Homo sapiens: one gene and its partner. The protein of the gene in region 1 interacts with the protein of each later gene in a biochemical or structural test. Each region holds a gene or a part of one and is shown in the gene's direction. Other genes may lie near its edges. The genes, in order: CRTC2 and MFHAS1.

Region 1 (4,492 bases):
GCTGGCCAGTTCTGAGCAAAGGATCCTCAAGGTCATTCTGCTCCTAGCAGGCTTTGCCCTGCTCACTGGCCTGCTCTTCATCCAAATCTAGGGGGCTTCAAGAGAGGGGCAGGGGAGATTGATGATCAGGTGCCCCTGTTCTCCCTTCCCTCCCCCAGTTGTGGGGAATAGGAAGGAAAGGGGAAGGGAAATACTGAGGACCAAAAAGTTCTCTGGGAGCTAAAGATAGAGCCTTTGGGGCTATCTGACTAATGAGAGGGAAGTGGGCAGACAAGAGGCTGGCCCCAGTCCCAAGGAACAAGAGATGGTCAAGTCGCTAGAGACATATCAGGGGACATTAGGATTGGGGAAGACACTTGACTGCTAGAATCAGAGGTTGGACACTATACATAAGGACAGGCTCACATGGGAGGCTGGAGGTGGGTACCCAGCTGCTGTGGAACGGGTATGGACAGGTCATAAACCTAGAGTCAGTGTCCTGTTGGTCCTAGCCCATTTCAGCACCCTGCCACTTGGAGTGGACCCCTCCTACTCTTCTTAGCGCCTACCCTCATACCTATCTCCCTCCTCCCATCTCCTAGGGGACTGGCGCCAAATGGTCTCTCCCTGCCAATTTTGGTATCTTCTCTGGCCTCTCCAGTCCTGCTTACTCCTCTATTTTTAAAGTGCCAAACAAATCCCCTTCCTCTTTCTCAAAGCACAGTAATGTGGCACTGAGCCCTACCCAGCACCTCAGTGAAGGGGGCCTGCTTGCTCTTTATTTTGGTCCCGGATCCTGGGGTGGGGCAGAAATATTTTCTGGGCTGGGGTAGGAGGAAGGTTGTTGCAGCCATCTACTGCTGCTGTACCCTAGGAATATGGGGACATGGACATGGTGTCCCATGCCCAGATGATAAACACTGAGCTGCCAAAACATTTTTTTAAATACACCCGAGGAGCCCAAGGGGGAAGGGCAATGCCTACCCCCAGCGTTATTTTTGGGGAGGGAGGGCTGTGCATAGGGACATATTCTTTAGAATCTATTTTATTAACTGACCTGTTTTGGGACCTGTTACCCAAATAAAAGATGTTTCTAGACATCTGTACAGTATCTGATTCGTTTGTTTTGGGAAAGGGGTGGGCATGTGGCCAGCCTGAGAGGGCCTGAGTCCCAGATGTTTACAGCTGTTTTAAGATTCTTGGTCTCACTGTTTTCACTCAGGACCCGATAGTCCCCTTCCCTGAAGATGACCTAATTTTTCCTCCTTTGTGTCTTGGTACTTCTTTCCCGGTCTCCACCCCTCGGCTTCCCTTCTCTTCCCTCCCCTCCCTCTTCCTTTCTTCTCTCTTCAATCCCTCTCTCCTTTCCGTTCGTAGTCTCAGGGCTAATTTAGAACTACTCTTCCCAGCTTGCACCTCTCAGGGAGTAGCCGAGAGGGTGGAGCCAAGTCCCCAGTTTCCGGAGTCAGCAGGGCTGCTGGGAAGTGGAGTCCGTTTCCTCCTAGTGCTGCGTGACTGGGGATGTGAAGGAGTCTCGTAAACAAACTACAATTCCCGGCGGCCCCCGCGCGCAACAGGTCAGGGCTAGGCTGGGGCCGGGTTCGCGGTGCTCGCTGAGGCGGCGGTGGCTACGGCTGGAGGAGCCGGGCCGAGGCCGCGGCGGAGGCCGCGGCTGGTACTGGGAGGGTGGCAGGGAGGGACGGGGAAGGAAGATGGCGACGTCGGGGGCGAACGGGCCTGGTTCGGCCACGGCCTCGGCTTCCAATCCGCGCAAATTTAGTGAGAAGATTGCGCTGCAGAAGCAGCGTCAGGCCGAGGAGACGGCGGCCTTCGAGGAGGTGATGATGGACATCGGCTCCACCCGGGTGAGGGGCCGCGCCGGGGAGCCGGAGCAGAGCTGAGCAGTTACGGAGCGGAGACCGGAGAGGCGGGGCGGGGGCGGGCGCCGCAGCGAAGGAGGCGGAACAGAGCAGGGGACGCGGGCGCCGCCGTTTGGGAGGCGCAGGTTGAGGGCCGAGGGGCAGGAAGAAGGATTTTGCCGGGGGAGACCGAAACACCGGAGAGGTTCGGGGTGTAGAGGCGACTGGGGGCCGAGTACGTGAGGTGGGAGTGGGCGGAGAGGGGAGATGAAGTCCGGCGGAGGTAGGAGGTGAGTGGTCCTTGTGCATCCCTGACGGAGTCCCCTCGAGGACGCTACTGAAGCATGCCTGGTATTGGGGTATGGCCTGGGAGGAGGGCTGCTTGTCTGTAACCTGGCTCCTCTGAGTTTGTGATCTCCTCCAAACTGGTCCCTCTGCCTTCTGCGCTTTGGTGCCCCCGGGAAAGGGCCCCTTGAGTGGTTTGAACGAGCGGTGCTGTGTATAGTGGGGCAGGAAGTCCCCTCCTGCGTCCCGTCCTTTTGCTTCCTTTTTCAAATACTTCTTGTGGTTTCCTGACGTGAATGAAGGTGAGGTCCATTGCTTGGTGTTTTGTCCTGGCCTCCTTGGAGGAGAGGTAGGGTTTTGAATCCGACAACTGGGTAACCGTCCGACCATAAGTTGTGTGGAACTCTATGGTTTGCTGAGCTTTCTAGGGAGTTGGCTGCTTTGTGGGTTAGTGTGTAGGGTGCCTTGGAGGGTCTTCTATGTGTTGAGAATATTCATTCCTAGGAGTTCTTGAAAGAACTTTCAGGCCTCTGCCAGGCTGCCTCTGAAGCCCCCCTGGCTTGGTTTCTTGCTTTCCAAGGCTGGAGGTCAGAGGGACCAAGGGGTAGGAGTCCGCCTAGGTGGTATGCAGTCTTAATTTAGGGACACATTCTTCTAAAACAACAGTAGGTAAGGATATTGCAATGATTCCTCATGGCAGAGAGCTAGAAGGAATTTAAGGATTGATGGTGGAACATTACTACAACATCTCTAGCCTTTTTCTGCTGGTCTGACTGTGGTTGCATTTATGACTGTGACTCTGGTTGTATTTTTGTGTGTATCCCCCTTGACTCTGTTACTTTTTTTTTTTTCTCGTCCTTTCCCCTTTGAGTCTCTAGGGACTATGTGCCCTAGTTTGTGGGAGTCAGAAGTTAGGTGGGGAGGCAAATCTGGGAGGGTGTCTGTGCACGCATGTGCACACTTAAATGCATGTGTGTGCATAACCCACTGTAACCATTGTGAGGATTATTATCTAACTGTAGACTGCTCCCCTTTAGGAGCTTTTTCATCATGTTGGGGACAGAGACAGGAAGATGGGAGGCTGATCTTGATAGCGTGAGGCCCTGCCCTCAGGACTGTGATTCTAGCAGAGGCATGGTGGGATCTTAGGGCTCGTATGTGCAAAGAAAGGCTGTGCGAAACTCAAAAGCTGGGGCTTCTCTTTACGGTGCCTCGATCTCTTAAAAGGCCCCTTCTACCCACCTTGCTCCTATTGGTTAATTTCTCAGCTACACAGAAAAGTCTAGTGGGCATACATGGCCAGGGGACCCAAAAGTCTAGAGCTAGGGACAAGAGATCTGGGACTCAGCCTGTTATCTGGCCAGGTGGGAGGGCTCATTTGAGACAGAGATGGCCATGGGAGGCTATACCACTGAGATACTGGGGTTGCCATATATGAGACCTCAAGTGGTCTTCAAGTGGTCCAGAGGTCAGCACAGTGCTCACTAGGCTGACCTCCTGGAACAGAATGTCAGTTCTGATGTTGGCTTCTGTACAAGAGTGTGACCCTGGAAGCTCTTAGAACTTGCCCCTCCTCAGCTGCCCTCCTCCCCATGGCCTTGCCCTGGGCCTGTTTATTTGGCTGGTCGCAGGGGCTGAGCCTTGGAAATAGATGCTCACCTCTCACAGAGACAGGATGTCTGTACACAGGCTAAACCCATGCCAGGCTGTCTTACGCCTATGCCAGACATAGCTCCCCAAAGTGAGGATGAGACCAGGAAGATGGCCCTGGCCCATGCTGGAGTGGGCTGCTGCTCTCTGTCCACCCTCCTTCTCCAGGCTTCCCTGCCAATTCAAGAGCCTTAGGATTCAGTGGAAGAATGTCCCTTGGTTTTGGTGCTGTTTTTCCAGCTAGGAGAGCTGCTATTCCTTGGATGTTCTAGTTTGGGAGGTGCAGGCTTTGTGTAGCCTTCCTGAGGCTGGGCAAGTGGCAGAGCCCAGAAGCCTGTGCTCTCCAGAGTGGGAAGGAAAGAGGCTGGCAGTAATGGCTCTGTGACATCCACCTGTGGCCTTCCTCTTAATCTCTCAATTAGTCCTGGACGCATCTGGAAAGAAAGCAGAGGTTCCTAATAGGCACTCCCCCTTGTGAGTAGCCCGGGAGCTCCTGGCAGCCCCTCAGGGACTCTGCTTAGAGTGATGCCAAATGAGACAGGCCCTCAGCAGAGTATCTGTCTCTGCCTGGCAGGATGATGTCAAGCAGTAGTGATATCATTGATGAGGGCAGTCTGCAGATGGGCTCTGGTGGGTTATTTGCACCAAATCTCGGTGGACCTTTCAAACCCCAACACTGGCCTTTTTTTTCTGGCAGATAATTTCTTTATTTTTTTTTT
Region 2 (3,806 bases), on another chromosome or scaffold:
CCTGTGCAATGATTACTAACGTATTTGCAGAGTTGTATTTATACAACCATCACCACAATCTAATTTTAGAACGTTCCTTCACCCCAAAAAGAAATCTCCTGCCTATTTGCAGTTAACTTGTGTCTTATCCAACACCTAGTTCATGCAGTCAGTAAGTTTTTTTTGGTTTGTTTTTTTGGTTATTTTTTTGAGATGAAGTCTCACTCTGTAGCCCAGGCTGGAGTGCAGTGGCGTGATCTTGGCTCACCACAACCTCCGCCTCCTGGGTTCAAGCAATTCTTCTGCCTCAGCCTCCAGAGTAGCTGGGATTATAGGCACACGCCACTGCACCTAGCTAATTTTTTATTTTTTGTATTAGTAGAGAAGGAGTTTCACCATGTTGACCAGGCTGGTCTTGAACTCCCGACCTCAGATAATCTGCCCGCCTTGGCCTCCCAAAGTGCTAGGATTACAGGCGTGAGCCACGCGCCCGGCCAATAAATATTTTTAGTGTCACTTTCAGGAATGGTTTTGCAGGCTGGTGTGTTAGTATGAAGCAGATTTCTGAGCTTTTGTTTTGGGACAGAGTCTCACTCCTTCACCCAGGCTGGAGTACAGTGGCATGATCTCGGCTCACTGCAACCTCTGCCCCCTGGGTTCAAATGATTCTCCTGTTATCCCTGCCGAGTAGCTGGGACTACAGGTACATGCCACCATGCCTGGCTAATTTTTGTATTTTTGGTAGAGATAGGGTTTCACTGTGTTAGCCAGGATGGTCTCGATCTCCTGACCGTGATCCGCCTGCCTCGGCCTCCCAGAGTGCTGGGATTACAGGCGTGAGCCACCGTGCCTGGCCGATTTCTGAGTTTTAAAGAGGTTCTCATAAACACGTTATCCTTGGCACAGTTCAGTCTAAAGGCAGTGGCTTATCTTGCTCCTGCCACTGCCAGCCCCCTATTTCCTGGATGGTGGAGAGGAGCTGGAGCTGCTTGGAGAGCTCCTCCTTTAGAACTTCTTCATGGCAGCCTAATTAGGCCCTAGATATTTCAGGGGTACTGAGCCTTGACATTAGGAGTCAAAAGATAGGGCAAACCTATACTTCCCGTGGGCAAGGTAGGAAGCAAGTAGACCGCATTATCTTTTAAAGCTTTTATTTGTGAATTCCTGTCTCTGTCCAGCTACTCTTCAGGTTGAGACCCAATATTCCATTTCCCAGGGAGTGTGAGCTTCTCTGGACAAATGGCAGCTTGCTGGTTGCGTTTCATTTCTAGGGTTCCTGCAGAATGCTTCTCTTTCTCCTTCTAAAGAGCTTTAGAGCAAATCCGTCCTCCACCAAACTGAAGACTCTTTGATAACCTGCCAGATAACCCAGTTTATCTACTGATTTTTGGGTAAAAGACCAAGCAAATTCAACAGGTCATCATATGAAAATGTTTTACCTTGAGGCATTACTGGAATGCGACCCACATTCTAACATGTGGTTTCTTAATGGACTGACCCTTGAATATACAGGAAATGGGCATGTGTCACTCTTATTTCCTGATGGTTGACGTTTCTCCTGCAGCGATACCGTATCTGTCTGTGCTCCGATATGTGGGGAATGGTGGGAGTTCTGAGACTGAAGAAGTTAGTTCATTCTGATTTTGGCTGATCATGTGTTAACAGAATTAGCAAAAAAAAAAAAAAAAAACGGGTGGGGTGGTGGTTTGAAAATGGTTGAGCTAAGCTTTCTCCTTTTTTAGGAAGTACTAATAATAATAGAGGGGAAGGCTGAGTTATTGCATTTCGAAATACCCTTTTAAAATCTTGGATTATTGCCTCTATACTGTAGAGTTCCCATTCAAGCAAGATCCCCACTAAATTCCAGTTACTTGCTAGCTGTTTGTAAGTATTCTCAGAAGTACCGTGGTTACTTTGCACAGGAATTTTGGCAGTAACATCGTTTTGACATAAAGACATTTAAGACCAGTTGCAGTAGCCTTTCATAAAAAGCAGGATGAAGTCTGTAGCCTTTATATCACCAAATAAACAGGCCACGTATGCCTAACAGCACACAAATTAGCATGAACTTGATAAAATATTTTTAAAAAGCAGTGGCGTGATATGAATTAGGCTTCATCACAATGGAGAATTTTTCACTGACCACAGAATTTTAAAATATAGAGGGTGAGGATGGGATGGTATTTTATAAGAAAAGGCCACATGTGGAGGTTGCCTGTGGGGTGTTTCACATTGATTTGCATTGATTTGTTTTGTTCTATGCAAGGAGTGAGGCAGCTCTTTGCCTTGCTGTTTTAACAAGCTAGGAGGAATTGTGTTTCTTTAATTATTTAGTCTCCCGTCAGCCACATTGATACTGGAATTTTTCCCTCTCTGCTTAGGTATCTTCATACTTTCTTGGAAAATTAAGTGGAAAAGATAGTGCTTCTTTTCCTTATGCCATCATTTTTACTGTACCCAAACTGTGACTTTAGGAGCACCAATTTTTAAGGGTAAGTCTCCGTGAAACAGAGAGAATTTCTTAAATAGGTAAGGCCCTCTTGAGGACTCAGAGAGATTAGGGGGGATATGGGGGTGTTGGGATGAAGAGATTTTGGAGAACAGGAATCCTAGACAAACCTTATACATCTCTAGAATCAAGTTGCATATGGGAATTAGGAAGAAGGGAACTGCTTGATTCTTTTGCTTAATTTACTATGATATTGCATAGACAGTGATCTTAGATCCTTGTTCAAAAAAGGAAGTCATTTTTGAAAAATGTTAATATTATGCAGAAATAAAACATCAAGTGGGTCCACACCTTCAGGAACTACACAGGAAAGTACCGGGATGGTCACAAGTAGGGAAAGGGAGGGACTGGGGGCAGGAGGGGAGAGGGGAGGAACGGGCAAGGCCGGGTAGGCAGGTCTAGGACAGGCTTATTTGAATAATCTCAGTGGCCCTGGGGCAGAGGGGTTGCCTTAGTCGTCTGGCACCTGGCTCAGGGGTGATTAGGGCAGGTGGATGGTGGCCTGGAGTGTGAGAGCCAGTAAAGGAGGTGTTCCAGGTGTGGGTTCAGGATTAGTTGGTTTGTATTGGAAGAGTATACTCCGGGCAAATTGTTTTACCATCTCTAGGAATTGGCTAATCCTAGGAGGGGCAGTCCCTCCAGAGTTTGCAAGGTCCGGAGTAGGAAAGCACCAGAATACAGAAAATAAAAGACATGGTTAATACAACATGCCATGGCTTCAGTTTCAGCCTAAGTGTCTCGGTACCTTGCGTCATAATTTCTTTGTTGCATCCTGGAAGGGCAGATTTCAATTCCCTAACCTGGGAGGACTCGGGGGCTGGGTGCCCCCCAGGCTGGACCCTCCCTTCAGCCCCAGACCTCTGTTTCCAATGTCTCACGTGGCATCATCCCTGGATGTCTGTAGGCTTCACAGGTGTACAGCTGAATTTATTGCCTTCCTCCCGCAAAGTTCTTCCTCAGTCTGTGACCTGTCTTGGGTAACAGCGTAGCTTTGTACCATCGGCTCCAAGCTAGGAGTCCGTAAGCCTCATTGCCTTCCTCTGCTTTCTTCCCTATATGTAGTAATTCTCCAACACCTTTTATCCCATCTCATCTGTGTCGTGACATGAATGAATTTGACCCACATCTTCAGCTTCAGCCTCGGGCTTCCCTCTAGGGCCCAACCCCCCCAGCCACCACTTCCCCCGTCTCTGCCAAGGTTCCTGTGACTGAGTCTCAGCTGGCTGCCTGCTCTCTTATCTTTTTGTCCTTCAAACCGACAATAATTGTCTTTTAACATCAGACCTCATCACATCTCTCCCTGTTGAAAAGCCTTGGA

The links.
Region 2: the proteins of CRTC2 (region 1) and MFHAS1 form a complex in vitro, tested with the Homo sapiens proteins (one large-scale study listed by BioGRID).

Annotation. Positions count from the first base shown.
Region 1 is NC_000001.11:153,955,697-153,960,188, reverse strand, and holds the start of CRTC2 (CREB-regulated transcription coactivator 2), read left to right. Parts: upstream 1-1,576; 5' UTR 1,577-1,691; coding exon 1,692-1,844; intron 1,845-1,958; exon of another isoform or gene 1,959-2,105; coding exon of another isoform or gene 2,106-2,128; intron 2,129-4,492. Other genes in the region: SLC39A1 (zinc transporter ZIP1), read left to right, coding at 1-91. UniProt on the Homo sapiens protein: Transcriptional coactivator for CREB1 which activates transcription through both consensus and variant cAMP response element (CRE) sites.
Region 2 is NC_000008.11:8,788,989-8,792,794, reverse strand, and holds part of MFHAS1 (malignant fibrous histiocytoma-amplified sequence 1), read left to right. Parts: intron 1-2,360; coding exon of another isoform or gene 2,361-2,388; exon of another isoform or gene 2,389-2,470; intron 2,471-3,806. UniProt on the Homo sapiens protein: Probable GTP-binding protein. Functions in innate immunity and more specifically the inflammatory response as a regulator of the Toll-like receptor TLR2 and TLR4 signaling pathways.